Linked DNA regions of Homo sapiens. The protein of the gene in region 1 purifies or fractionates together with the protein of each later gene. This does not show direct contact. Each region holds a gene or a part of one and is shown in the gene's direction. Other genes may lie near its edges.

What was found.
Region 2: the proteins of ADNP (region 1) and RRBP1 purify together in Homo sapiens (affinity purification with mass spectrometry; one large-scale study listed by BioGRID and IntAct). This does not show direct contact.
Region 3: the proteins of ADNP (region 1) and SEPTIN2 fractionate together in Homo sapiens (co-fractionation; one large-scale study listed by BioGRID). This does not show direct contact.
Region 4: the proteins of ADNP (region 1) and TRA2A purify together in Homo sapiens (affinity purification with mass spectrometry; one large-scale study listed by BioGRID and IntAct). This does not show direct contact.
Region 5: the proteins of ADNP (region 1) and PHGDH fractionate together in Homo sapiens (co-fractionation; one large-scale study listed by BioGRID). This does not show direct contact.
Region 6: the proteins of ADNP (region 1) and PLCB1 purify together in Homo sapiens (affinity purification with mass spectrometry; one large-scale study listed by BioGRID and IntAct). This does not show direct contact.
Region 7: the proteins of ADNP (region 1) and CHAF1B purify together in Homo sapiens (affinity purification with mass spectrometry, with the first as the bait; one large-scale study listed by BioGRID). This does not show direct contact.

Annotation. Positions count from the first base shown.
Region 1 is NC_000020.11:50,903,819-50,907,915, reverse strand, and holds part of ADNP (activity-dependent neuroprotector homeobox protein), read left to right. Parts: intron 1-3,066; 5' UTR 3,067-3,150; intron 3,151-3,914; coding exon of another isoform or gene 3,915-3,919; coding exon 3,920-4,027; intron 4,028-4,097.
Region 2 is NC_000020.11:17,619,432-17,623,528, reverse strand, and holds part of RRBP1 (ribosome-binding protein 1), read left to right. Parts: intron 1-1,581; coding exon 1,582-1,674; intron 1,675-1,755; coding exon 1,756-1,839; intron 1,840-1,981; coding exon 1,982-2,071; intron 2,072-2,721; coding exon 2,722-2,814; intron 2,815-3,158; coding exon 3,159-3,230; intron 3,231-3,800; coding exon 3,801-3,896; intron 3,897-4,097. UniProt on the Homo sapiens protein: Acts as a ribosome receptor and mediates interaction between the ribosome and the endoplasmic reticulum membrane.
Region 3 is NC_000002.12:241,339,473-241,343,569, forward strand, and holds part of SEPTIN2 (septin-2), read left to right. Parts: intron 1-3,519; coding exon 3,520-3,621; intron 3,622-4,097.
Region 4 is NC_000007.14:23,504,030-23,508,328, reverse strand, and holds the end of TRA2A (transformer-2 protein homolog alpha), read left to right. Parts: intron 1-793; coding exon 794-909; intron 910-2,062; coding exon 2,063-2,191; intron 2,192-2,515; coding exon 2,516-2,583; intron 2,584-2,759; coding exon 2,760-2,770; 3' UTR 2,771-3,549; downstream 3,550-4,299. UniProt on the Homo sapiens protein: Sequence-specific RNA-binding protein which participates in the control of pre-mRNA splicing.
Region 5 is NC_000001.11:119,738,999-119,743,095, forward strand, and holds part of PHGDH (D-3-phosphoglycerate dehydrogenase), read left to right. Parts: intron 1-1,387; coding exon 1,388-1,520; intron 1,521-2,768; coding exon 2,769-2,899; intron 2,900-3,808; coding exon 3,809-4,046; intron 4,047-4,097. UniProt on the Homo sapiens protein: Catalyzes the reversible oxidation of 3-phospho-D-glycerate to 3-phosphonooxypyruvate, the first step of the phosphorylated L-serine biosynthesis pathway.
Region 6 is NC_000020.11:8,138,414-8,142,510, forward strand, and holds part of PLCB1 (1-phosphatidylinositol 4,5-bisphosphate phosphodiesterase beta-1), read left to right. Parts: intron 1-4,097.
Region 7 is NC_000021.9:36,391,453-36,395,549, forward strand, and holds part of CHAF1B (chromatin assembly factor 1 subunit B), read left to right. Parts: intron 1-98; coding exon 99-216; intron 217-3,094; coding exon 3,095-3,198; intron 3,199-4,097. UniProt on the Homo sapiens protein: Acts as a component of the histone chaperone complex chromatin assembly factor 1 (CAF-1), which assembles histone octamers onto DNA during replication and repair.

The DNA of each region.
Region 1 (4,097 bases):
ATGTGAACATACATTCCTGGCCAGGCATGGTGGTGCACACCTGTAATCCCAGCACTTTGGGAGGCCAAAGCCAGCAGATCACTTGAGCTCAGGAGTTCAGGACCAGCTTGGGCAACATGGCAACACCCCATCTCTACAAAAAAAAACACACACACACACACAAAATATAGCCAGGCGTCTAGGTAGTGTGCACCTGTAGTCCCAGCTGGTGGGGCTGAGGTGGGAAGATCACTTGTGCCCAGGAAGTCAAGGCTGCAGTGAGCTATGATTACACCACTACACTCCAGCCTGGATGAAAAGTGGAACCCTGGCCAGGCGTTAACGTGAGTTAACATGAACATACATTCCTGGCCAGGCATGGTGGTGCACGCCTGTAATCCCAGCACTTTGGGAGGCTGAGGCAGGTGGATCACCTGAGGTCAGGAGTTTGAGACCAGCCTGGCCAACATGGTGAAGCCCTGTCTCTATTAAAAATACAAAAATTAGCACGATGTGGTGGTACGCGCCTGTAGTCCCAGCTACTCAGGAGGTTGAGGAAGGAGAATTGCTTGAGCCTGGGAGGCAGAGGTTGCAGTGAGCCAAGATTTGTGCCATTGCACTCCAGCCTGGGCAACAAGAGCAAAACTCCGTCTCAAAAAAAAAAAATGCCGGGCGCGGTGGCTGTAATCCCAGCACTTTGGGAGGCTGAGATGGGCGGATCACAAGATGGGCGGATCACGAGGTCAGATCAAGACCATCCTGGCTAAACGGTGAAACCCCATCTCTACTAAAAATACAAAAAATTAGCTGGGCATGGTGGTGGCGCCTGTAGTCCCAGCTACTCAGGAGGCTGAGGCAGGAGTATGGTGTGAACCTGGGAGGCGGAGCTTGCAGTGAGCCAAGATCGTGACACTGCACTCCAGCCTGGGTGACAGAGCGAGACTGTCTCAAAAAAAAAAACAAAAAAAAAAAACTGGAACCCTGTCTCAAAAAAAAAATACAGATTTCTCCTAGTTGCCAAGCCTACAGCAAGATAACATTTTTTGGTACAGCATTTCCCAGTAAGCAGTGTCACTGCTTTATTTATAAGCCTTTTAAATTCAAAATAGATAAGTAAACCCAACACCAACTCTGTGGCTGAAATACCGCTTTTTATAAATTACAAGTTTCTTACAACTAAGTTCCCTTATGGGCATACTCACTTTTTCAGAAAAAAATACCTACCAGGCAGTGAGATGCTTCATCTTAATGTCTTAAACCGACTTTTTAAGCTGTGGGTAGGCACTTAGAAGAATGGGTTTTTCTTTCCCCCAAGCTGCCGCTTGATTCTTTTTTATGTTTTCTATAGACTAATGACCCCAGTGGTGGCTGCATTTCCAAATCTTTATGTCTTTGTTTTTCTGAGATTGTTGAGCCACTCATCCAGGAGGCAGGGAAACCATTAATGGCTGGCTTCTGGACACATCTGTTATGAAGTGTGAAGCAGAGTTAACTCAGGAAGTTCCCAAAGAACTGAATTTTGGCCCATAGAGAGTTTATGAAATGAACAGAGAAACAAGATGTCTCTTCCCAGTCTTAGGTATCTGTGGGCATCCATTTTAATACCTGGTTTCTTCAGAATTAGCCTGTGACACTTTTCTGTATTTCTGAAATATTTTTCTAACATGTGCTTCTCTCTAAAAGACCTGGTTTGTAGTAACTGTATGTGTTTTTTGTTTGTCTGTTTTTGAGATGGAATCTCGCTCTCGCCATGCTGGAGTGCAGTGGTGCGATCTTGGCTCACTGCAACCTCTGCCTCCCGGGTTCAAGCGATTCTCCTGCCTCAGCCTCCCGAGTAGCTGGGATTACAGGCACGTGCCACTACGTCCAGCTAATTTTTTGTATTTTTAGTAGAGTCGGGTTTTCACCATGTTGGCCAGGTTGGTCTCGATCTCTTGACCTCGTGATCTGCCCTCCTCGGCCTCCTAAAGTGTTGGGATTACAGGCGTGAGGCACCATGCCCAGTGTGTACTAACTGTTTTAAATTAAGCAAGTGATAAAGAATTTGCTGGTTTTAAGCCACCACAAAAGATGGTTTAAAACAATTTAGCAATAAAATTTGGACAAAAAATAATTGATTTGGTCTTAATTTATATCAGAAGTGACTTCTAAGTCTGTAGTTGGCTTCACAATATGCAGATTATTAGCATAGCAGAGAGAGCAGGGGACACCATAGTCATTGCTTCATAGTGAGCAGCAATTCTATCTTGAGTATGATAAGGCCTAGAAGGTTTTTTTGAAATACTTTTCATTTTCGGCCCCAATTAGACTTTGGTACTTCATATAGAATATTTTGAGACTTCTAAGTTAGAGTAACGTACCCAGTTTCAAAATTTCTAGGGGTTACTCTTTGATTTTGGTAGATTTCACTCTTTCTCCTTTTATTTTCCATTTTTTTATAGTTAACGTTGATTTTGGATTAGAATAATAAATGAGGCAGCATTTTATTACATTTGGATTAGTTGACTTGCCATTTACAGATGATATTGGTATTACAGAGTAACAGCCTTTGTTAATTAGAAAACTGGATTTGCATATATTAAATTTTAATTCCTGGTGCTTTGTCTTTTGTTTTTGCTGTTTTGGGTTTTAGAACTACTTTATATCCTGCGAAATTGTGTTAGATTTGGATTATTAAATTGATAAATTTTTACCATATTATGGGAAGCATTTCTGATCTCATTAGAAACCATACATATTCTCAGCTGCCCAGGTTTTACTGATTTTATTTTCTCATTAAAGACAAACTTCTGTTTTAAGGAACTTGGGAAAGTTGATATGAATTTCTAATTTAATGTATTAGGTCATTAAAATAATTTTTGAGTTCCCTTAGACACATACAGGCTTTTCATTTTTTTCAAAAGTACCCTCCTTAAAGTCTGTAACAGTTAACATTTTTGAGTACCTTTGCCCAGGTACGTTGCAGGCAGGGGTGGAGTGGGGGCATGCATTGGTCGAGTCACATATCATTACTGTATTTAGTTTGGGGAGTATACAGAAACTTAAGGTTTTTTTGTTTTTGTTTTTGTTTTTGTTTTTGTTTTAAAGAATACCGTAGCAGTAGGCAGGACAGTTCCAATTCAACAAAAACCTCTTTACCCTGGCACTCAAAACTGTAATGATGATGAACTGGTAAGCATTTTTCTGTTTTCAGATGTTCAACATCAAAATGAGAAAAGCACTAACACTTGATTTAAAAATAATTGATTGCTAGTATTTCTCTAATTTTCATCTTGAAGTTCATTACTGAACTGTTGTTAAGTCTTATCAGAATTATGCCAGATTAGACTCATAGTCAAAATGTCCTGTTAAAAACTGGGAAAATCAGAGAGTACTTATTTTGCCTGCCTGCTTTAAGTATTCAAAATATAGTAGATATGTGCTCGGCTCAGTGGCTCACGCCTATAATCCCAGCACTTTGGGGTGCCAAGGCAGGAGGATGGCTTGAGTCCAGGAGTTTGTGAGCAGCCTTGGCAACATAGTGAGACCTAGTCTCTACAAAAAAATTTTAAAAATTAGTTGGGCATAGTGGCGCACTCCTGGAGTCCCTTCCTCTTGAGAAGCTGAGGTGAGAGGATCACTTGAGCCCAGAAGGTTGAGGCTATGGTGAATCGTGAGTGCACTGCAGTCAATGAACCATGAGTGCACTGCACTCCAGCCTGCGCGACAGAGTAAGACTCTGTCTTAAGAAAAGGAAGGAAGGATGGATGGATGGATATATCAAGCCATATGCACATGAAAGCAGGTGTGTGTCTGTGTGTGTACACACTAGATGAGGATATCTATGCACCTTTTTTGTCAGATGGGTAGGTTTTATGATCCTATCATCAGTGGAATTAGTAAATATTACAAGTTGTACGTGTTTTGACTTTGACTTAAATTTTTTTTTCCAATAGAAACTATGTTCCAACTTCCTGTCAACAATCTTGGCAGTTTAAGAAAAGCCCGGAAAACTGTGAAAAAAATACTTAGTGACATTGGGTTGGAATACTGTAAAGAACATATAGAAGTAAGTAGCATGTCATTTTTAAATTTTAACATGACTCAGCTTCTGATCCATTACTTTGTGTCAGTGGCCA
Region 2 (4,097 bases), about 33 Mb from region 1:
AGTGTCTGAGCCCACGGGTTGCTTTTGGGGTGCTGGGCTGTCCAGGAGCCAGTGAGGAGGCTCTGGCCAGGGGACATGGCCAGCAGCAGCTGCAACTAAAGGCCCTGCCCACACTTTGAGGTCACACACGTTTTCCTACCTCATGAAAGGGCCTCCACTCCCAGCCTCTCTCACAGGAATATCTGCCCCAATGGCAGGAGCTTTGCGGTGATTCCCAGGAAGCCTGAGGGTTGTATCAGATGAGGACAACTAGCTAGGGCAGGAGGTGAAGGATGGCCTCAGGCCACCCTGTGAGAGCTATAGTTAGACTCCTAGAATCTTGGCCTTGTAGCCCCCAGTGACCTCAGAGACTGTCTGGCTACCATGTGGTAAATGAAGCTGTGACCAGAGATGTCACCTGACTTGATTGTGGTCACACATCCAGATAGAAGGTGGCCTCTGGGTCTCCAGCTTGCCTTGACTCACAACTAGAGGCCTCAGTGGTGGTCGTGAGGTCAAGGGTCCACATGGGTCACGGGCCCTACCTGTGGATAACTTGGCCAGCCAGGAAGGGCCCGCTTCTCAGGTGTGCGTCAGGCCAGAGGGCGCTGCGCTCAGGCTGGGTGTCCGGTGGTCAGCATCCTTCATGCACATTCCAGGACTCTGCTTGGGGGAGTTAACACTCCATCAGCTCTGATCCAGGTGGAGTTCCTGGGGCCTCCCTGGGTCTTAGGCCAGGCCTGTCCAGGTGGTGGCAGGGCCAGACACAGGCTGTTACCCCAGCAGCCTTCCCCTCGGGGTGTGGGAGAGCCCAGCTCTCTCCCGGGGGACACTGTGGTCCTAGGCTTTGCTTCATGATTCCCTTGGGCCCCCTTTGTTTCCTTTTGTTTCCTTATCTTTGTTGTGCTTTGAATGGGGGCCGCTGGCTCTTCGTTGAGGACTGAGGGGGTGTCCGACCCAGCATGGCACAGGGTGCAAAGTCCCTGTCTCCTCTGAGTGGGCTTCTCCCTCTGCAGAGGGGGAATGCTGATCCACCCTCTCCAGGGTGGCTGGAGATGAGCCTCTCTGGGTTGCCCCTTCCTGGCTGCCACTAGCCCCTAACCGTGGTGCCGCCAGCAGACGCACTGCTTCCCTGCCTTCACCCCCATCCCCATCACAGCTCTAGATTCCAAAACATTGGGGGCCATGAGTGTCCTCCCATCCCTTCTTCCTGCCCTGGCTCTCACACATCAACTGCGGACCCCCCAAATTCCCCCACACATGCACACATGCCCAGAGAGCTCGGGAAGTGAGAGCTGGTGGAGACTGTCCCTGCTGGGAGATGTCCCGGGAGCTGGCACCTGCCATCTTGGCCTGACCCAGTATGCTCCTTTCATCAGAGCTTAGTCTGTTTGAAATGGACCAGATACAGGCTGGGTAACCCCTCTGCTTACAGTCAGCCCCATGGAGCCTCATCTTCTCCTTTGATTCTTGTCGCTTCCCTGAAGAGCTGAGGATGTGCCCTTTCTGGGGCAGAGACCCGGGCATATCAGTAAAGACCTGGGGAGGTGCCCCACACCTCCACAGCTGAACACCTTCCGCTCTTCCCCACCCACCCCCCAGGAGGAATCGGAGAAGCAGCTCTGTCTGATTGAGGCGCAGACCATGGAGGCCCTGCTGGCTCTGCTCCCAGAACTCTCTGTCTTGGCACAACAGGTAGGAGGGGAGGGTGGTTCCCGGGGACCTCACAGTTCTCAGGGAATGTCCCCGGGTCTCACCGAATGTGTTTCATTGCAGAATTACACCGAGTGGCTGCAGGATCTCAAAGAGAAAGGCCCCACGCTGCTGAAGCACCCGCCAGCTCCCGCGGAGCCCTCCTCGGTAAGTGTGGCTGCCTGGCAAGGCTCCTCTGTTGGGCTCCCCTGTCCCCAGGAAGAGGGGCTGCCCCAAGTCATTTCAACGGGAAGCCAAGAGAAGAACCTTTGTGTGTGGCTAACTAAACACCTGTTCTTCCCTCTCTCAGGACCTGGCCTCCAAGTTGAGGGAGGCCGAGGAGACGCAGAGCACACTGCAGGCCGAGTGTGACCAGTACCGCAGCATCCTGGCGGAGACGGTGAGCATTGGGAACCTGTCAGCTGGGCATCCCTGGGAGGCTGCAGGGAAGGAGAGCTTCGGGGCCTATGGGGCAGGAGGTGGCCTGGTGTTTTGGAAAAGCCCACTGGCCTTGTGACTCTGGGCCCCGTTCTTCGGCTGCATGGTAAATGGATGGCACCCTCTGAGGTCGTCATTGTTTCTAAGCTGAAGAGAAGGCCAAGTTGAAGGTTCGGGGCCGGTCTCTAAGCTGGGGAAGGGGAAGGACGGGGTAAGCAGCTGGTGACTGCCAGGTTGAACCCCGTTTGTGACTAAGAGCAATGCCAGGTCTAGCCCTGCCACTCTCTGGCCAGCCCATCCTGTGCTCCTCGTCCTGGGCCATTGACACACTTGGTGCTGGTGGCAAACCCCGGCAGTAACAAGCATCCTAGTGGTCCTGTGCAGGTCACAGACCTCATTTCCTTGCCTGGCACTGCAGCCACACTGGCCCACTGGCCAGAGGACCTCCCTCCCAGGACAGTGGTTGCCTTCCCTCCCCACCTAACGCTGGCGCTCATGAAGTCAGCAGGCGGAGCACGGCAGGTCACCAGGGCTGCAGGGACAGGAAGATGCGGTTGTGTGGTGCGGGTCTCGGGAGGGAGAGGGCCCTGCCTCACCTCGGTTTCCCCCCAGGAGGGCATGCTCAGAGACCTGCAGAAGAGCGTGGAGGAGGAGGAGCAGGTGTGGAGGGCCAAGGTGGGCGCCGCAGAGGAGGAGCTCCAGAAGGTATATGCAGCCCTGCCTGCCTCCCGGCGCCGTGGAGCACATGAAGCCCAGGGGAGAGTTGACAGGATTGTCTCTGTCACCTGTGAGACTCGTGTGTCTCGGTGGGGCTTTTCCACGACACCCTATGAAGCACAGTTGCGGGATGACAGCTCAGTCCGTCCTCCAGGAGGCCCCCGCCTAGGAAGACACTGCCAGATGGCGCCAGGGTGACCGTCCCAGCTGGGCGGAGTGGGCACCCCCGGGGCTTCCTAAGTTGGGTCAGTCCCGCTCGGGTCCTAGCATGGCCTCGGAAGGAGACACCCCCAGGTGCTCGTGTCTGACGGAGCCTTCCCCTTGCTTTGTAGTCCCGGGTCACAGTGAAGCATCTCGAAGAGATTGTAGAGAAGCTAAAAGGAGAACTTGAAAGTTCGGACCAGGTATGTGCTCTGCTCAGAGAACTCTTTCTCTTGTCCCGGGAGCCTCTTTGAAAGTGACGTTAATGCAGAGGACACTTCACTGATTTCTTCCTCATGGACCGTGTGCCTTAAGAGAGGCATTCTCTCTCAAGCCAAGGGATCTTGTCCATCCTGTTTTTCCTTAATGAGAGACATTGACTACCTCAGAGGACCCTGAGACCCAGCCACGGGCCCTGTGCAGACCTGCCCAGCCCTGGTGAACAGGGCTTCTGCCACGGCCTTCACAGTCAAGGTGGCCCCACTGCCCCCTTCAGACGCCACAGGGAGCCCTGGAGAAGGTACCCTTGGTACCTGCTTTTGCAAGTAAATCTAAGAGCATGTCAGTCCCCAGGAGTGCCCGGGTGCAGCCTGCCACTTTCCGTAAGGGGTTCTCTTGCCGCGGACTAGTTTCTCGTTTGCTTGGTAGCTGGTGGGCCTCAGGGATCTCCCGAGAGGCCTCACCTATCCCAGGGCCAGCCTGCTCCCTGAGGTGAGTGCCCTTTGAGCAGAGGCTGCTGGCGCATGCGTGTGCGTGTCTGTGCATCTGTCCAGGTGAGGGAGCACACGTCGCATTTGGAGGCAGAGCTGGAAAAGCACATGGCGGCCGCCAGCGCCGAGTGCCAGAACTACGCCAAGGAGGTGGCAGGGGTGAGTCTGCCCCCCAAGGAGTGCAGCCCCTGCCCAGCAGATCTGCGGTCCTCCCTGAGCTGCTTCTCCTCAGCCCTGTGGGAGCAGCTCTCGGTGACATAAGCCTTGAAGTCCGAGTCCTCAGGCGTTTGCCCGAAGCCTCACAGGCCCCTCGTTGGGCTGTCAGGCCTGAGGTGTCTCTCAGGGCAGGTTTCAAAAAGG
Region 3 (4,097 bases), on another chromosome or scaffold:
GAAATCACATAGTAATACTATTCTGCCATTTGATTTTTCTATTTAAAAATATTTGGAAGCATCCTCATATATATACTGTATCCTAATTCTTCCTGGATGCACAGCATTCCACCATATGAATATACTCTAACTTGTCCAGTTTCCTGCTGATGAATATTTGGCTTACTTTTTGTTTTACTCTGGCCCCTTTTCTTCTTTGACCAAATTTACTGTTTCTTTGCCCCTTGCTCGCTGCTTTTGCTAGTGATACCCTCTGCCTGGAACAGTCTTCCCTCAGATACCTGTGTGGGGAACTCCCTCACTGAGCCCAACGCTGCACACAAGATTTCACATCTCCATCCCCTGCTCTGCTGGTAGCACTCCCCCCACACTGCATAAAGTATTTCTCTAGCGTGTTTTTTGGCTTCTCCTGACCCCTGACCCCAGGTCCTGAGATCAGGAATCTGCTTTGTTCACTTATGTATTCCCAGAGTTCCGAATAATGTCTGGCACATAATAGATTTGTTGCATAATTGTTGTAATGAACACTGGTGTACATCTATCTTTTCACAATTGTGTGAGCCAAACGAATTCTTAGGAAATAAGTATACATTTAAATTTTTGAAGGATGACTAAATTTGCTCTAAAGTAAGTTTGTAACAATTTACATTTCCAAAGTGTACTCTTCTCTCCACCCCCTAAAACTGTCCTGGTTATGTTGCCAGTTTTTGTAATGTGTTTCCTGTCTGAGAAATTGTATCTCATTTGAATTTGCCTTTCCTTGATTGCCGATGTGAGTATCTGTGCTGGTGTTGATGCCGGTTGGTGTATTCTCTCAGGTTGCAGGGACTTGGCTCTTGCTTTTTTATTGACTTAACACATATACTTATTTTTAGATGTTGACTATCACGTTGCAGATGATTTCACCTGGTTTGACTTTCATTTTTTCACATTTTTCTTGGTGCTTTTTTCCAAAGCAATTTTTAAGCAGCATGTAGTCATGTTTGGCAGCCTTTTCCTAAATTGTCTCAAGTGCCTGCCAGTTTTTTAGAAAGTATTTGAACCTTTGAAGAACCCCTGGAAGCGTAGACGTTTTTATGCTAATAAATACTTTAGTAATTCCTACTTAAGGGAACTTCACCTTTTGTACTCTGCTATATTAAATTTCTTTGAGGTAGAAATGGGGGTGGTGTCAGGGTTAGAATGCTGTAATTCTAATCTCTAATCCTGTATGCGAAACATTTAGTGCTGGATTACAACATCTGAGATGAATCGAAATACTTCGAGCTTTTATCCCTTCCTTCTTGGGCCTCATTAATCACTTCTCTTCCTCCAGTTTCTCCTTGATGCCTACCAGTTTGTTCATTCTGCCCTATCTACAAGAACCTCTTGCCTCCTGCCAGCCTCTACTAGCTTCTTGCCTTCACCAGCCTTTCTTCTAGTCAGACACTTACTGGTAGCTGTTATCTGCCCTCCCCATGATCCTGTTCACTCAGGCTTCCTGTCATCCACCTGCAATTGCTCTCTCATGGGCTTGGCCAACAGTTCAGTTCTCAGATGTGGGCCCCACCTGTGGGGTTTGTGTGATTGGCAATTCTACTTCTGAAACTTCCCTTCCTTGGCTGCTGAACCACTGTGTTTGCTTTTCTATCTGCTGTTTTTTACCACCTTCCTTCCTGATCCCTGAAGGTCAGTATTCCTTAGTATTATTTTGATCACATTATTTCTGTGGCTTCTGATTTGCCCTTCCAGGTATCTTATTTCTTGTTGTGAACCACATTTACCCACAGGAGTCCTCTTTTGACCACTGATGGACTCCTGTCCTTCCAGCTCCCCTGTCTCTTTAAATGGTCCCACAATTCTTGAAATCATCCAGACTGAGAAATGTGTAAATTATTTTTTACTCATCACTTCTGACTCCTCTGCTCACTTTTAAATAGCTTACTAACTGTTTCCGAACTCTTCTCTCCTCCAAAGTGTAAGCTCCATCTTTATGAGGCCAGCATAGGACAAAAGATGAGGTTAGCATGGATGGATAGTAGACCAGGAAAGGGGCCGTAAGATGAGGACAGGTGAGCAAGTTCATGCTTCTTATTGCTCAGTTTCTCCCAGAGATAAGATGGTTCCTCCCATTTAGGAATAAGGATTTATGAAAAGACTGAAGGTCGAGTTACAGAGTAAAGGATGTAGAGAGGAGGGCCTTTTCTGGAGTTCTGAATTAGTGCAGACATTGTACTAAGACCAAATCTCTGACCATTCAAGGCCCTTTTTAGGTCACATTAAGGCTTTCCATTCTTAAAAACCAGAAAGCAAATCCAGTGCACAGTTTGAGGTCGGGATATTTTCTGCTCACGTTGCTCTTGTTCTCTCTTCCCTGAATGGCTCAGGTACTGAGGTGAGACCAAACAAAACTGTGGCCTGCCTGGTGCCTGTGAGAATGCCCACCATGCAATGAGCATTTGAGTGCTAGGGTTTTAATTGATTGACTGATGAATGCATTCGTATTTCAACTTCAGCCCAGTTCTTTCTCCCCTCAAGCCCCATCCCCCACACTACTGCCTGCTTGATAGGTCCGATTGTGGGATTTCACTGCTGACTGCTGGCTGCCTGTTGAATGAAATACAGATCCCCAGGTCGCTAGCCTGGTGTTGATGGAACTCTCCACTTTGTAATTCCAATTTTTGTTTCCTTATCCAACTGGATGTCTTAGATTCCAACCTTTTGAATTTCTTATTCTCAAAATGCACCCCATGTGTCCTCTCTGTGCCTTTGACGAGGTTTTGTTTTTTTTTCTTTCTTTCTTCCTTTTTTTCCATCTGGGGTACTTCTCCCTTCTCTCTGCTTTTAAGACTCCTGCCTGTTCTCCAGGGTCTTCTCATGCCTGTAGCTTCTCTGTGGCAATTACCCTTCTTGAGGCTGATTGTGGTGTGATTTCCATTTTAGCTGTTGTGCTGGGGCTATCGTTAGTCTTCCTGCTGCTTTGTACATTGAGGGTAGTGGTGCATTATTGCTAATGTTATTTTTATTCTGTACAGAGGATCCTCAAAATTCAAGTATAAATACCTTTCTAGCAGTTTTGTAAATTTTTTTTTTTTTTTTTTTTTTTTGAGACGGAGTCTTGCTCCGTCACCCAGGCTGAAGTGCAGTGGTCTCAGCTCACTGCAAGCTCCGCCTCCCGGGTTCACGCCATTCTCCTGCCTCAGCCTCCCCAGCAGCTGGGACTACAGGCGTCCACTGCCACGCTTAGCTAATTTTTTTGTATTTTTAGTAGAGACAGGGTTTCACCATGTTAGCCAGGATGGTCTCCATCTCCTGACCTTGTGATCCACCTGCCTCGGCGTCCCAAAGTGCTGGGATTACAGACGTGAGCCACCACACCCGGCCGCAGTTTTATAAATTTATTTGACAGTAACTTTCGTCATCAGTTTGATTATTGACATTTGTATGATTTCCAATATATTTCTTACAAGATGAGCTAGAATTGGCTACAATAACATACGCAGTTTGCTAAAATTGATCCTGGTTTTGTCATTCTCTCAGATTCTGGATGAAATTGAAGAACATAACATCAAAATCTATCACTTACCTGATGCAGAATCAGATGAAGATGAAGATTTTAAAGAGCAGACTAGACTTCTCAAGGTAAGAACTGGCTTCAGATCCACAACATAAATAACTCCTGTTTACTGTTGTCCATGTTGAGGTGAGAGAGATTGCCTGGGTATGTTCAGTTACGAGAGTATTTTTGCTTTCAATATATTTTAAGACCTCATGCAGTGGCTCATGCCTATAATCCCAGCACTTTGAGAGGCCAAGGCAGATGGATCAGTTGAGGCCAGGAGTTCCAGACCATCCTGGCCAACATGGTGAAATCTCATCTCCATCAAAAATACAAAAATTAGGTGGATGTGGTGGTGCACACCTGTAGTCCCAGCCACTCGGGAGGCTAAGGCAGGAGAATCACTTGAACCCAGGAGGCAGAGGTTGCAGTGAGCCGAGATCGCGCCTCTGCACTCTAGCCTGGCGACAGAGCAAGACTCTGTCTCAAAAAAAAAAAAAATTTGATACAGCTATCACCTAAAGCTTAGAAATTTTATTGTAGGTTTAATTTGTTTTCG
Region 4 (4,299 bases), on another chromosome or scaffold:
CTGCCAGCCTGGGCAATGGAGTGAGACCTCCTTTTTTTTTTTTTTTTTTTTTTAATGACCTTTAGTTTATGGGACACTCTTACGGAGAAATATTTGTGGATACATAAAAATTGTGTAGTTTTTATTAGTTTATTATACTTTTATTAGTTCAGTCTCAATAAAAGGTTGAAAGGCATTACGATAAATTTGTTCTTGTCTGTTTATATCATTTCTTCTTGGCTGCTCACTGAGTCTTAATCAGTGTACTAGACTGCAAACTAAAGAATAAGATTGGGGGCAGGTTATAAAAAGAACATGTATAAAGCTTAGCAAACCCTTTTTAATGTTCTGAAGTCAGTCTTTGTAAGTGAAATCGCTGGAGACTAGAAAGTATGAAATGGCAGTCTACCTGGGCAACCTACAAAAAATTTAGCTTGAAAAGACTTCAGTCTCCGCTCCCCTGTTGATCTCATGGAGTGGGGAATGGGAATTGAACCAGAACTGGAAAATTATTTAGGAAAGTTTGTTAACTACTCTTTGTTGATCTCATGGAGTGGGGAATGGGAATTGAACCAGAACTGGAAAATTATTTGGGAAAGTTTATTAACTACTCTTTCTGCTGAGTAAATTTAAATGTGTTCTGGACATTGTTGAGGTCTAGAATTGTCTATACAATGCCCTGTACAAGCTACATTGCTGTCATTTTCAAAATCAGGAGTTTATTTGGATTACATATACTTTGTGCTTAATTTTAAGTAATGATTACTTCAAGACTGGTGAATTATACGTGACTTTTTGTGCCTGTTCTTTATAGGCTATGGAAAGGGCAAATGGAATGGAGCTGGATGGTAGAAGAATTCGGGTGGATTATTCTATAACCAAGAGAGCGCACACACCAACACCAGGCATCTACATGGGCAGACCAACTCAGTAAGAGTTCAAGTTTCCTAAGCTAAACTATGAAATCCACCAGAAATATGTGCAAAATTTTGATTACTCAGAAACTTTTTTCCTATAATTAGAATTGATTCTGGCAAGGGGCAACATGGCAAAACCCTGCTTCTACTAAAAAAAAATAAAAAATCAGCCAGGTGTGGTGGCACATGCCTGTAATCCCAGCTGCTCGGGAGCTGAGGCACAGGAATCACTTGAACTTGGGAGGCAGAGGTTGCAGTGAGCCTGGGCAACAGAGTGAGACTCTTTCTCAAAAAAGAAAAAAAACATAAGTAGGGGTTTTGATAATGTTTTTAAATATACAACCCTCCTGGCTGGCTCACGATGTTCATTTGCCGGGCGCAGTGGCTTACACCTGTAATCCCAGCACTTTGGGAGGCCGAGGCGGGTGGATCACGAGATCACGAGATCGGGACCACGGTGAAACCCCGTCTCTACTAAAAATACAAAAAATTGGCTGGGCATGGTGGCAGGCACCTGTAGTCCCAGCTACTCAGGAGGCTGAGGCAGGAGAATGGCATGAACCCCGGAGGCAGGGCTTGCAGTGAGCCGAGATCGCACCACTGCACTCCAGCCTGGGCGACAGAGCAAGACTCCGTCTCAAAAAATAAAAATAAAATATACAACCAAAGGCAGTATTCACAGAGGTATTTCTTGGGAATAAAAGAAGGAATATAGTCATTCCTTGGTATTCTCTTTGGTGTCCAGAGTTACTTAAAAATTCTTGGTGTTTATTGCCTTTTAGTCACAGGGATACACCTTTTATTCATTTATTTATTTATTTACCAGTCTCATTTAGCAGTAGGAATGCATCTTAGCATTTTTATACTGCTGCTCAACACAGTGCTTCATCGTTTCAATTTGTTGAAAAGATTTTAATTTGGGCAGTGCATTAGTAGAAAAGCAGTTAATAGTTTTGAGAGTTTTGTGAAGCCCTTCTTGATTATGTATGTAGGGAATAAGGCAAACCAGAATACCATGGGAGTCAGTAAAATGAGATACGGAGGCAATTTCTCATGAAAGGGATGTTCTTCCTCACTTTTCTCTTTTTTAAGCCATTCAATTTGTATTAAAGTGTCCTGGAAAATAGTCATTCACACTAATGGAGAATTTTTACATTTTTCTGCAGTAGTGGTGGGGGTGGTGGAGGAGGCGGCGGCGGTGGAGGTGGAGGTGGTGGCAGACGTCGAGATTCTTACTATGATAGAGGATATGATCGTGGGTATGACAGATATGAAGACTATGATTACCGATACAGGTAATGTTTTAACTTGAGCTTTCTGTTCTAAATTAGATGATAGTAGTGTTACTTGGCACTTTTATGTTGGATACATATGAATAAAAACTTGATTTTTAAAATAGATCATATATGACGCCTTTGGGAGCAGAAGTTAGCAGTCTGTATATGTCAGTATTTTGTTGTGCTATATACTTTTCTGGTCTCATTGGCAGAAAGAGAACTTAATATTAAGTAGTTATCACCTTAGGTACATTATTATTTTGAATGATGAGGAATTTTTATTTTCATCTGCCTCAGTGGAGTGATTATATAGTATGCTAAGTAATCTTTCATTTCTTACAGAAGACGATCACCTTCTCCTTATTATAGTCGATATAGATCACGATCAAGATCTCGTTCCTACAGCCCAAGTATGTGAACTTTACTTTTGTAGCATAAAAAACCTCATTTCTAATTAATGGCTTACTTTAGAATATTAGAGTATAAGGTGGAAGGTGGCAGTTAATAGTTGGAAAAATATGAGGCAAATTAAACTATAATTGTTAACTTTTTTTTTTTTTTTTTTTTTTTGCTTTTTCTCTTTTAGGACGCTATTGATAACGGAATGGTTGCAATTAAGGACATTTTTTTTCCTCTTTTTTTTTTTTTTTTTTTTAATTCTGAGATTTCCCCAAGCTGTGGATTCTTCCTACTCCTTAAGAAAAAAACTTTGGTTTATTTAGCATCTACACTTTTGTCAGTTGTGTTGCTGTTTTCCACCCATTTTATTATACTCTTAAAAGATGTAATTGTTGTCATTTTGAACAGTTAAACATCTTGAGTATAAAAAGAACCCCAATGTTATGTTATGCTTTGTAAATTTTTTTTTTTGCTTTTACCTAGATAAACTTCTAGCTAATCAAATAAGGAAAGAAACTGTCTTTTTAAAGCTTCTTTTGTGTTAGATACTGTATTAGAGATCTGCATTTATCATGAGTTCCTTTTTTTTTTTAACTTTATTTTTGGGAAAGTAACACATGAAGTAGTTCAGTCATGTCAGGTTTGTCTGGGGTGGAATGGAACAGTCAGGTAGTTGAAAGTTTTTTTTTAGAGATGAAAAGCTTGTGAACTCCTGTAAAACATGCTGTATTTGAAATACATCTGTTAAAACTTAAAAACTAAAGTGTGATTTTTTTTGTTGTTGTTAAGTTTATTGAAGTTTATTCCCTTAATCAGTGAAGGACAACCCTTATTTATTACCTAGAGCAGTTGTATAATTCGCTGTTAGAAATTTTGGTATTGGGACAGTGGATAAGCAGGTTATCACATAGCATAGAATTCTTAAAAGATACATGTGGGGAAAAGTAGTCTCAAATAAAAGCTAATTTCTTTGAAAATGGGATTGTCTCTTTATTGTGGTACCATGGAGAAATATGATTGAGGAACTGGTCCTTCCTTTTCCCTCACATCCCCCCAGTGTGTATTTATATGAAAGTTTACCCATCCTGAGTTTTAACTTCCCAATATTTCTCATTTTTAAAAATATTTTTTCTTACACTAGAATGTTATTCCTTGTCTTTTCTTTGGTTCTTTTAAAACCCTTGTTTTTCTTCTCTTTTGGGGGAGACCGAATTGTAAATATTGAGAATATTCAGTACCAGCACCATGCTGAAGGAAAGATAGGTAGCTAATACCTTTTTTTTTTTGAGACGGAGTCTTGCTCTGTCACCCAGGCTGGAGTGCAGTGGCGCGATCTCGGCTCACTGCAAGCTCCGCCTCCCGGGTTCACGCCATTCTCCTGCCTCAGCTTCCCGAGTAGCTGGGACTACAGGCGCCCACCACCACGCCCGGCTAATTTTTTGTGTATTTAGTAGAGACGGGGTTTCACGGTGTTAGCCAGGATGGTCTCGATCTCCTGACCTTGTGATCCACATGCCTTGGCCTCCCAGAGTGCTGGGATTACAGACGTGAGCCACTGCACCCGGCCTACTTTTTTTTTTTTTTTTTTTTTTTGGAGACAGAGTCTCGCTCTGTTGCCCAGGCTGGAGTGCAGTGGCGTGATCTCAGTTCACTGCAAGCTCCACCTCTCTGGTTGACGCCATTCTCCTGCCTCAGCCTCCCAAGTAGCTGGGACTACAGGCACCCAC
Region 5 (4,097 bases), on another chromosome or scaffold:
GGAAAAAGAGACATTTTTGTCACATAAGAAATATATTTTCCTAATTCTTCCCTGCATTTTCCCCAGTTCAATTCTGTTCTAACCTCAGACACAGAATAACATTAGGGTCAGGTTGGTGTCCCAAAGTGCCTGACTCCTCCCTGGAATTCTCCCACCTGTCCACCAGGGAAGACTGAGAATCCTCCTTTTACTTGGGAGCCCTGTGATGGACACCTCCCCGGGCTTGGGCTCTGCAGGCCCACACAGAGGACAGAGAGATGTGCCGAGGTGCCTGCGTTATGGGCCCTCTTAGTTGGACTTTCCTCTGCTGCTGCAGGCCCTCAGCCCCGGCAGTGGCAGCATGGTGCTCCAGATCTCCTCCCAGCAGCTAGCTGCTCCACCCCACCACCCTTCTTGTCTGTGACTCCTTGGAGAGGATCCAGGAGCCATGCAGCAAGAAGCCTGCAGACCTGTCACCTCCCACACTGGAGAGGCTCCCGTGAAGCCCGGCCTCAGCAGTCATTTCCCATACCATGATTCTTTCTCTGTTTAAAAAAAAAAAAATTCTTCCAATGATATCTTTATGAAAACAGAAAGAGAAGCATCTGTGTTTCCTTCTAATTACATCTTGTAGCTGCCTGTTTGATTTGCATCTTTCTAAGATGGTTGACTTTACAAGTTATCTCAATAAAAGTGGCCAGATGCCTAACTCAGAACCAGAGCATTTTGAACCACAAAATGGAATTGAAATTTTGGCCCAGAACAAGCTGGTTCTGTTATCAGGCCCCTGGGTGGGGCAGGGGGCAGCCAGCCAGGTCCTAGACATAACTTTTGGGGGATATGGGGCTTGTGTCCCCTCAGTGTCACAACATGCCTCACAGTGGACTTCGCATGCGTTGATATTTGAAGCACGATCATCAAAACTTTGTGATAATTGATCGTAGTGTTTAGTAACAATGTAAACACTTAAAAAAATTCAAGATAGAAAATAAAAATGAAGGCAAGTTGGGACTGCCAGAGAAGACCCGTCACTCCTCATCCAAGTTATCTGCGACTCCCATATGTTTTGTGTCAAAGACTCACCTTTATTGTGCTGTCCAATCCCTTCCCCAGTGCAGAAACAAGTCTCCCATGGAGGGGGCTGGGGCAGACACAGTTTGCTGAAAGGAGCAATTTTGAGTGGTTGTGGCATTCTGTGTCCATTTCTGGCTCCACAGCTTTCTTCATTTGTAGGAACAAGTCCTTGTCCTGTTGTTAGTGGCTGATGGAAGTTGTCACCCACCAGGCACCAAGGCAGGAGTGACCCTATACTGTCTTTCTTGTGGAGCTGGGTCTTGGCAGCCAGATCTTGATTCAGGATCTGCCATGCCTCTTCCTGACCACAGCCCCGCTCCTCCATCCTCTGCAGGTGAATGCCCAGGCCCTTACCAGTGCCTTCTCTCCACACACCAAGCCTTGGATTGGTCTGGCAGAAGCTCTGGGGACACTGATGCGAGCCTGGGCTGGGTCCCCCAAAGGGACCATCCAGGTGATAACACAGGGTGAGCTGGGGACCTTGCAGAGGGAGGGGGAGGAGGGGATGAGGGAGTGTGGGATCTGCCCTGCTGGGTGTATTTGCTGCAGGACACAGGGTTAGTGAGAGGCAGTGAGGGTGCCTTGGACCCTGCCCTGAGTATAGCTCCCTTACTACTGGTGGGAGGGTGGTAAAGGGAGGGGTTAAAAAAAGTCGTTGGAAAGATGTACTGAATATTCATAAATCATGTTTATGTAGCATTTTTAAGACCTAGATATTTTGGGTGCAAGAGAAACCTCTACGAGAGAGAGAGTTTCATGCGAGAGGTCGTAGGATGGCTGGAGGGAGGCCCTAATTAAGCAACAGGATGCTGGATTCTGGTTTTTGGCCCTGTCTCTTCCCTGCTGTGTGACTCTCCCTTCTGAGGCTTGGATTCTTCACTTGTAAAGTGAGAGTTAGGGGCAGATGAGCCAGGAGCGGTGAGGACACTTTGTGCTCTGTAACTTACTAAGGTGGTACCTTGGGCCGTCTGACAGCCCTCGAGAGAGAGTTTGCTCAGCCGTGGAGTGGGAATGAGAACAGTGCCCTCTGACCACCCCTCGGGCTGCTGAGTGGGCTGTGGCCACCTTTGCAGTGGATCCAGTACTGTGCGGATGTGGTTGAGTGACCAAGGAGGGCTCCAGTTTCCTTAACCCTGTAGACGTGTATCTTTCCCCATGGACTCTTGGGTGTCTCACAGTTGGGCAGAGATTGCAGGGAGAGGGCAGCTAAACCCTAGGCATTGACAATACCAGGGAAGGGCAGAGCCAGGGGGTCCCACTGGCCTGGGTGTCCAAGCGCCGAAGGAAACAAGGCAGGGAGCTGGGCAGCAGTTGCTTCGGTTACTTCTTTCTGCTTTGATTTCCTGAGGCTGGCAAGGCTCTGAGTGCCAGGAAGGGGTAAGAGTAGGGAATTTTCCTGTGTCCCCTGGGAGAATAATAGGTAGGCCAGGATGGCCAAGCCAGGTGCAGGGTTGGGGAGCGGAGTGGAGTTGAGCTGAGTTTTGGAGAGGAGTTTCTCAGGGTGGTTAAAACATCCTGGGTTTCCTGGCTTGGGCCCAGATTATGCCTCTTCTGAGCCCACTGAAGGGCGAGTGGACCTGCCTGGAGCAAGCTGCCTTTGGGGTCCCCAGGGCAGCGAGGAGCCCATAGTCCAGAGCTAGGTGCCAGTGGCTTCCTGCCCCCTCCTGTAGTGCTCAACAAACAGTGACCTCATGGTAGCTTCTCTCTGTCCCCAGGAACATCCCTGAAGAATGCTGGGAACTGCCTAAGCCCCGCAGTCATTGTCGGCCTCCTGAAAGAGGCTTCCAAGCAGGCGGATGTGAACTTGGTGAACGCTAAGCTGCTGGTGAAAGAGGCTGGCCTCAATGTGCGCCCCTCTCCCCCACGCTGCCTCCCCATCCCTGTCAGCACTAGTCTTCTCCCCCACATTTCCAGAGCCCGTTCTCTGAGCGGAGGCCTAGGTCCCAGCCTTGCATCGGCCTGTCTACCTGTGAGGGGTAGCTGCAGTTTCTTCAACTGCAAAATGAAGATACTGCCTGGCCCCGAGTGTTGCTAATGGCACTGCTTTGTGTATGAGTGCTGTGGGAATGGAGGCAGTAGAAGTGTCCCCATTTCACAGCCAAAGAAAATGACGAGCTAGTGTGTTTGACTCTGCCCGACATGGCTGCCAGGCCATGTTTGACTCTGCCTAACTCCCCTCAGGGCTCCTCATGCCGTAGCACCCGGGTTCTTGATTCACTTGCAAGCTCTAGGAGCCCTGCTGCCTTGCACGGCTTCCCGTTGGCGCCTTCCCCTCTGGTTCCCTGTTTAGATCAAAGTCTGTTTCAAAGCCTGTTGCTCAGCCAGTGGGAGCTGGCAGAAGGGATAGGCAGTAGAGCTGCCATGTCCTCACCCCTCTGCTCCCCTCCACTCCTGCATGCCAGTCATGCCACTGATGCCGTGCAGGAGGCTGTGTCAGAGCAGGAGGGGCCAGAGTGGAGTCTCCTCACAGCCCTGCCTCCCTGCTTTTCTTTCCTCCCTGTTTTCCTCCAAGCCTTCGCCTGTGCCTGGCAGATCTCTTTGCCCTCCCTTTAAGGAGATCATTGGCTGTTCCAGGAAGCTGATGCCGAAGGGCACACAGCTTGGCCCATTTGCCCTCTCCCTTCTGGTCCTGAATTACTGAGCACATTATCCAGGCTGGAGCCCTACATCCTACCAATGGGTGATTTGGCCAAGAGAGGAGGGTGGACGTGGTGCAGCCAGGAGGTGTAACAGTCACCTTGCCTTCTCCACACAGGTCACCACCTCCCACAGCCCTGCTGCACCAGGGGAGCAAGGCTTCGGGGAATGCCTCCTGGCCGTGGCCCTGGCAGGCGCCCCTTACCAGGCTGTGGGCTTGGTCCAAGGCACTACGCCTGTACTGCAGGGGCTCAATGGAGCTGTCTTCAGGCCAGAAGTGCCTCTCCGCAGGGACCTGCCCCTGCTCCTATTCCGGACTCAGACCTCTGACCCTGCAATGCTGCCTACCATGATTGGTGAGGAGGGCCCTGTAGGGCTGGCTGGTGTCCTTGAGGCTGGGGTGGGGT
Region 6 (4,097 bases), about 43 Mb from region 1:
TGTTGACTAACGCTATGGGTCTCCACTTAAATAACAAACCCCTGGTAACTGAAATCATTGGTCTTCTTGTTACTGGAGCTAATAATTAGGTTCATGCAACCTTTCAGATCATATCATAAATTCCAAATGCTCAGGCATATTTCACAGTCTTTTCCATCTAATCTTTTCCCTTTCTGTTCTATGTCTGATCCCCCTAAGCAGAGCCTTGTGCCCCTATGTGTAAGTAGGCAAAGGAAATATAGACATATTTCTGAGGTCATTTACATATATGACCATAAAAAAGCCATTGATTTTTGTAACTAACTAACTGAAATAGGATATAAAGGAACTAACTAATTGGAATAGATTATAAAGGATGCTTATGTTCTTTAAGAGTCTCTCTGGTTTTCCTCTGATCTCTTTAAGAGCTAATGTTCGATTTTATTATCATTACCATGTGTTAATTCTCAAAATTTTTATTTCAATTTGTATTCCAAAAATGGTTTGCATGTACCTATTAATTGAGGTTGACTAAATCTATGCATTTATCAAGAAACTAAATTATTATAAATTGAGTAACAAACTATTATATAAAATTGGAAAAAAGTTATTTTTATTTATACTAAAATTATTTTATTTATATTAAAACAGAAATAAAAGCATCCTACATCTGTCTTTTATTTCAAGGGTTTTTTTTTTTTTTTTTTTTTTTGAGACAGAGTCTTGCTCTGTCACCCAGGCTAGAGTGCAGTGGCACCATCTCGGCTCACTGCCAACCTCTGCAGCCGGGTTCAAGCTATTCTCGTGCCTCAGCCTCCGGAGTATCTGGGATTACAGGCACATGCCACCATGCCCAGCTAATTTATTTTTATTTTTATTTTTAGTAGAGACGGGGGTTTTGCCATGTTGGCCAGGCTGGTCTGGAACTCCTGACCTCGGGTAATCTGCCCACCTCGGCCTCCCAAAGTGCTAGGATTACAGGTGTGAGCCACCGCACCCGGCCTTCAAGGGCTTTTTTTGTTTACAATATTTGGTTAATGTTCTGTTTCTTTTTACTGAATTGACGTTTAATGTACAAGATCACAGAAAGTGGATTAGTTAGTAAAGAAAACATTTACCTGAAGTAGTCACATGGATATCAATATATAGCATTGATATCTAGAAGATTAAGATATTATTTTGCCATTAAAAAAAACATTTTTTTTGGAAGTTGTCTATGAAATAGTTAAGAGTAAGGGAAATTTAATTTAATTTTAATCCATTTTATAGAAGAAGCCATACAAGCTCATGAAGCTGGAAAACCATAGAGCGAATCAGCAATTGATCTGGTCAAAAAATGTTAAAGATGCCAATCATGATCCTCCCCAGGTGTGCTGTGTTGGATATGGTTGAATCTCACATAGCATCGATTCCTACATCCTCTTAGTAGGACTTCTTATAATACAAAATCTGGACTTCTAAAGCTACATTTACCAGACTCCTTTTTGACGAACATTCTTCTTGAAAATTAATATTTCCACCAAATAAATTCATGCATATGAGATATGGAGGGCAGAAACATTAAAGGGGCCAATTTCCTGCATCCTTTGGGTTGTTTCTACAGATACGTGAGAAGCTAAAAGAGGTGGGACTTTCTGTAATAGTTCTTCAGTGTCTCTGAGAGGCAGTGGTGACAGTGGCCACTCCCTGTTGGCAGCTTACACTTCTTTGGCTTCAACAAAGCTGGTGTTTTGTTTGGACCCCGGGAGTTCCTTCTTGATTTCTCACCTTTCTGAATGTGGTAGATACAATAGCTCTCCCCAAGGGTCTGTGCTGCTATGTTCTGAGATCATTCATGGAGAGCCAACCTAAAGCCTGCTCCTCCAACCCTTCCAGTTTTTCTGTCAAGTGCTTACTTTATATTAAGTCCCTTTATCTTCAAAATTCAAGAGAAATTTCTGTTTCTCGCACCAAATCCTGGCTGATATGGCCTTTTGCGGTTCTAGGATTTCACAGCTTTCAGTCCTAAATATAATAATCATCTAAGTATCCTACATAGTTTTCTCCTTCAGTACTACTGTTGAGTAAAATGAAGTTTTGCTGTAATATTTCCTCTGGAATTCAAAATCCAGACTAAGTCCTAATAGCAGGCATTCATGCTTATATAGCAGCCCTGCTTACCCCTGTTCAGTCATTAAGACCACCTCGGGTGGTAGGAAAAAGAGCAAGCGTTTGTCTTTTGCATTTCACGTAGAAGCAAATCGAGGCTAGTGATTGTGATTTGTCGAAGGGCACATAACTAAGTAGATCTGGAATAGGAATTTAAAACTACGTCTTCTGGCCAAATTCAGTGTCCTTTCCAGTCTACCATGATGTCCCCGAACAGGGTCCTTTTAGTAACAACAACAACAACAAAAAACTTTTTATTTTTTTATTTTTTTTTTTAGACGGAGTTTTGCTCTTTTTGCCCAGGCTGGAGTGCAATGGCGCAATCTCGGCTCACCGCAACCTCTGCCTCCCCGGTTCAAGCGATTTTCCTGCCTCAGCCTCCTGAGTAGCTGAGATTACAGGCTTGTGCCACCACGCACAGCTAATTTTGTAGTTTTAGTAGAGATAGGGTTTCTCCATGTTGGTCAGGCTGGTCTCAAACTCCTGATGTCATGATCCACCCGCCTCAGCCTCCCAAAGTGCTGGGATTATAGATGTGAGCCACCGAACGTGGCCAACAAAAAGCTTTTAATAGAGTCTAAATGAATACAAGTTTGAAGAGATTGATAGACTTTTCCAAAGAATCTCTGTTATTTTTAGGATTCATACATATGAAGCTTAGATCCCTGCAAACTCAGTTTTTGAGCTATTGTCTTCAAAATAGCTCTTTTTCATGGTGTATGTACAGTCCGTTTTTGTCTACACTGTGCAAGATGTGTGAGCATTGGAAAACCTCATTGCTGCTTTGAGACAAAAAGGGCAGGCCAGCCGCAGTGGCTCACGCCTGTAATCCCAGCATATTGGGAAGCCAAGGCAGGTGGATCACTTGAGGTCAGGAGTTCAAGACCAGCCTGGCCAATATGATGAAACCCCGTCTCTACTAGAATACAAAAATTAGCTGGGTGTGGTGGTGCACACCTGTAATCCCGACCACTCGAGAGGCTGAGGCAGAAGAATCACTTAAACCCAGGAGGCAGGCAGAGGTTTCAGTGAGCCAAGATCGCGCCACTGCATTCCAGCCTGGGCGACAGAGCGATACTCCGAAAAAAAAAAAAAAAAAAAGGAGGGGGCAATGTATGCTCTATAGTCTTTAAAGATATTCTACATCAGTCAGTCAGCGTGGAAACATGCATGTGGAAAGACAGGTATTCAGGTATGGTGTTAAAGGTCTTTTTTTCATTGTCGAGTAAGTGACATTTCTGCATTCAGCAAGACTCTTTATATCTGTTACTCCACCTTTTCTTCTTCTCGACATACGTGTAAATGTTGTCTTTTGCTGATTCCTATTTAGGCTTGTCCCATGGCCTCTCATAGAAATCATGGACCATGGAAGAACAAGAATATGGTAGACATGAAGGAAATGTAGAGGGTGAGTTGCCTGCTCTCAAGCACGATGCAGAATGCAAGACAGTGTCAACTGAGAGGCCAGATCTATATTACTTGTGCAGGGAGGTAGATAGGCCTTGTTTATATTACAACTAGAGCAGGACTTCTGGAGGGCTATAGCTTTATAATTATCATTATTATTTTTTTCCCTAGGGGAGAGCATAGGCCTGGCACTGGGAGGTGCTGATGCTCAGGGGATATTTGTGGAATGAAGGAACTGTCTGGTGTTTGTCTGGCTCACAGTGGGTTCACACAGGGGAGTGTGCAGCCTTGAGGCAGACCTGGAGGGCAGTCATGCTCCTATGAGACCTTCGTGACCTTTGAGGTGTTGTGTTACATTGGTTGGAACACCTTGCTCCTTGTCCTTCCATTCCATCTGAAATCTCCTAGGGTCCTAAGGGACTCTGTGACCTTCTTAAATGGGATTTCTCCATGTGTGTTTGAGAAGGAAACTATTTATTGGCAATGCAGAGCTCACTGCTGTTACAGTGCTGATTTCATTTAAGGTCCAAATATGTCTTAAGATTGAGTGTATACTACACTGC
Region 7 (4,097 bases), on another chromosome or scaffold:
GACTCCGTCTCAAAAAAAAAAAAAAAAATGAAAATAAAAATCCTAATATGAAGGAGTGTGGGTGAAGCGTGGATCACTGTTACTGAATCACCCTGCAGATGCTGTCATCCTATTGTGGAAGGTGAATGATAACAAGGAGCCGGAGCAGATCGCTTTTCAGGATGAGGACGAGGCCCAGCTGAACAAGGAGAACTGGACGGTTGTGAAGACTCTGCGGTAACTTGGGAGGGACCATGGCAGTGATCTCTGTTTACGATGAGTGCATTAAATGGAATATACCTTTTGACTTTTTTTTTCTTTTCTTTTGAGATAGGGTCTCATTGTCGCCCAGGCTGGAGTGCTGTACTGTGATCACAGTACCCTGCAGCCTTGACTTCCCGGGCTCAAGTGATCCTCTCACCTCCCAAATAGCTGGGACTACAGGTGCATGCTACCATGCCCTGCTGATTTTTAAATTTTTTTTTTTTTTTTTTTTTTTTTTTTTTAGTATTTATTGATCATTCTTGGGTGTTTCTCGGAGAGGGGGATTTGGCAGGGTCATAGGACAATAGTGGAGGGAAGGTCAGCAGATAAACAAGTGAACAAGGGTCTCTGGTTTTCCTAGGCAGAGGACCCAGTGGCCTTCCGCAGTGTTTGTGTCCCTGGGTACTTGAGATTAGGGAGTGGTGATGACTCTGAAGGAGCATGCTGCCTTCAAGCATCTGTTTAACAAAGCACATCTTGTACCGTCCTTAATCCATTTAACCCTGAGTTGACACAGCACATGTTTCAGAGAGCAGGGGGTTGGGGGTAAGGTTATAGATTAGCAGCATCCCAAGGCAGAAGAATTTTTCTTAGTACAGAACAAAATGGAGTCTCCTATGTCTACCTCTTTCTACACAGACACAGCAACAATCTGATTTCTCTATCTTTTCCCCACATTTCCCCTTTTTCTATTCGACAAAACCGCCATCGTCATCATGGCCCGTTCTCAGTGAGCTGTTGGGTACACCTCCCAGACGGGGTGGCGGCCGGGTAGAGGGGCTCCTCACTTCCCAGACAGGGCGGCCGGGCAGAGGCGCCCCCCACCTCCCGGACGGGGCAGCTGGCCGGGCGGGGGCTGCCCCCCACCTCCTGGACGGGGCAGCTGCCGGGCAGAGATGCTCCTCTCTTCCCAGACGGGGCGGCTGCTGGGCGGAGGGGCTCCTCTCTTCCCAGACGGGGCGGCTGCCGGGCGGAGGGGCTCCTCACTTCTCAGACGGGGCGGCCGGGCAGAGACGCTCCTCACCTCCCAGACAGGGCGGCGGGGCAGAGGCGCTCCCCACATCTCAGACGATGGGCGGCCGGGCAGAGACGCTACTCACTTCCTAGACGGGGTGGCGGCCGGGCAGAGGCTGCAATCTCAGCACTTTGGGAGGCCAAGGCAGGCGGCTGGGAGGTGGAGGTTGTAGCGAGCGGAGACCACGCCAGTGCCCTCCAGCCTGGGCAACATTGAGCACTGAGTGAGTGAGACTCTGTCTGCAATCCCGGCACCTCGGGAGGCTGAGGCTGGCAGATCACTCGCGATTAGGAGCTGGAGACCAGCCCGGCCAACACAGCGAAACCCCATCTCCACCAAAAAAATACGAAAACCAGACAGGCGTGGCGGCGTGCGCCTGCAATCCCAGGCACTCGGCAGGCTGAGGCAGGAGAATCAGGCAGGGAGGTTGCAGTGAGCCGAGATGGCGGCAGTACCGTCCAGCCTCGGCTTGGCATCAGAGGGAGACTGTGGAGAGAGCGGGAGAGGGAGAGGGAGACGGTGGAGGGAGAGGGAGAGGGAGAGGATTTTTAAATTTCTGTGGAGACAGGGTCTCACTATGTTGCCCAGGCTGGTCTAATTTAGAAGTTTTATTTATATGAAACAGTCCTAAGACAATAGTTTTAAAGGATGAAAGCATAATTAAAATGGATTTTCTTAGTTTCGGCTATACATTTTTCTTAGTAAAAAGTATTCAATTTTAAAGATACAGCTATCCTTTTTTTTTTTTTTTTTTTTTTTAGATGGAGTTTTGCTCTTGTTGCCCAGGCTGGAGTGCAATGGCATGATCTCGGCTCACCGCAACCTCTGCCTCCTGGGTTCAAGCGATTCTCCTACCTCAGCCTCCCGAGTAGCTGGGATTACAGGCCTGCACCACTATGCCCAGCTAATTTTTTTGTATTTTTAGTAGAGACGGGGTTTCTCCATGTTGGTCAGGCTAGTCTCAAACTCCCAACCTCAGGTGATCCGCCCACCTCGGCCTCCCAAAGTGCTGGGATTACAGGCGTGAGCCACTGCGACCGGTCAGATATAGCTATCCTTGAAAGTAGTTTTTTATAGCTATAGCTAATATAGTGCCAGTGGAAATTTTGGAATCTCATTTTAATGCTTAGTTCTGGAGATTGTCCTTATATTTTTGATAACTTGTCCGTTTTTGAGTTAATAATTGCTTTTTGTTTTGTTTTGTTTAGAGTCAGAGTCTCACTCTGTTGCGCAGGCTGGAGTGCAGTGGCATGATCTTGGCTCACTGCAATCTCTGCCTGCTGGGTTCAGGGGATTCTCCTGCCTCAGCCCCCAAGTAGCAGGGACTACAGGTGTGCGCCACCACACCTGGCTATTTTTTTTTTGGCTAATTTTTTTTTTTTTTTGAGATGGAGTCTCACTCTGTCGCCAGGCTGGAGTGTAGTGGCGCGATCTTGGCTCACTGCAATCTCTGCCTCCCAGGTTCAAGTGATTCCCCTCCCTCACCCTCCTGAGTAGCTGGGTCTGCAGGTGTGCACCACCACGCCTGGCTAATTTTTTGTATTTTAGTAGAGACGTGGTTTCACCATGTTGGCCAGGATGGTCTCGATCTCCCGACCTTGTGATCTGCCTGCCTCGGCCTCCCAAAGTGCTGGGATTACAGGCGTGAGCCACAGCACCTGGCTGATTTTTGTATTTTGAGTAGAGATGGGATTTTACTGTGTTAGCCAGGCTGGCCTTGAACTCCTGACCACAGGCAGTCTGTCTACCTTGGCCTCCCAAAGTGCTGGGATTACAGGGGTAAGCTGCTATACCTGGGGAGTAATTGCTTTTTTCCTCTTTGTTTTTGGATTCTAGGGGCCACTTAGAAGATGTGTATGATATTTGCTGGGCAACTGATGGGAATTTAATGGCTTCTGCCTCTGTGGATAACACAGCCATCATATGGGATGTCAGCAAAGGTAAATGATATATTTTTGTTATTAGCAGGAAGAAATATTCTAAGCATCTATAAAAGCCTAAAAGTCTAACTTGCTTTAACTTTTTTTTTTTTTTTTTTTGAGACAGGATCTCACTCTGCCGCCCAGGCTGGAGTGCAGTGGTGCGATCTTGGTTCACTGCAACCTCTGCCTCCTAGATTCAAGCGATCCTCCTGCCTCAGTCTCCCAAGTAGCTGGGACTACAGGCATGCACCACCACACCCAGTTAATTTTTGTATTTTTAGTAGAGACGGGTTTCATCATGTTGGCCAGGCTGGTCTCAAACTCCTAACCTCAGGTGATCTGCCCGCCTCAGCCTCCCAAAGTGCTGGGATTACAGGCATGAACCACTGCCCCTGGCCCTAACTTACCTTAACTTTATTTTTTATTTTTATTTTTTTGGAGACGGAGTTTCGCTCTTGTCCAGGTTGGAGTGCAATGTCACAATCTTAGCTCACTGAAATCTCCACCTCCCGGGTTCAAGCGATTCTCCTGCCTCAGCATCCTGAGTAGCTGGACTACAGGTGTCTGCCACCACACCTGGCTAATTTTTGTATCATTAACAGAGACGGGGTTTCACCGTTGGCCAGTCTGGTCTCTATCTCTTGACCTCAGGTGATCCACCCGCCTCGGCCTCCCAAAGTGCTGGGATTACAGGCATGAGCCACCACACCCGGCCTACTTGCTTTAACTTTAAAAGCAACACAAAAAATTGTTTTAGTGAACTAAAGTAGGTGGTTGGCTCAACAGGATAGGGGTTAGTCCCATATGCTATGGATTGTCAGAGGGTAAGAGGCTTAGCACTGGTGCTGCAAGTTACTGATGCTGAAGCCAGGCAAATCCCACATGGTGGGGCCAGCAGATAAGATGACAGGCCCGGG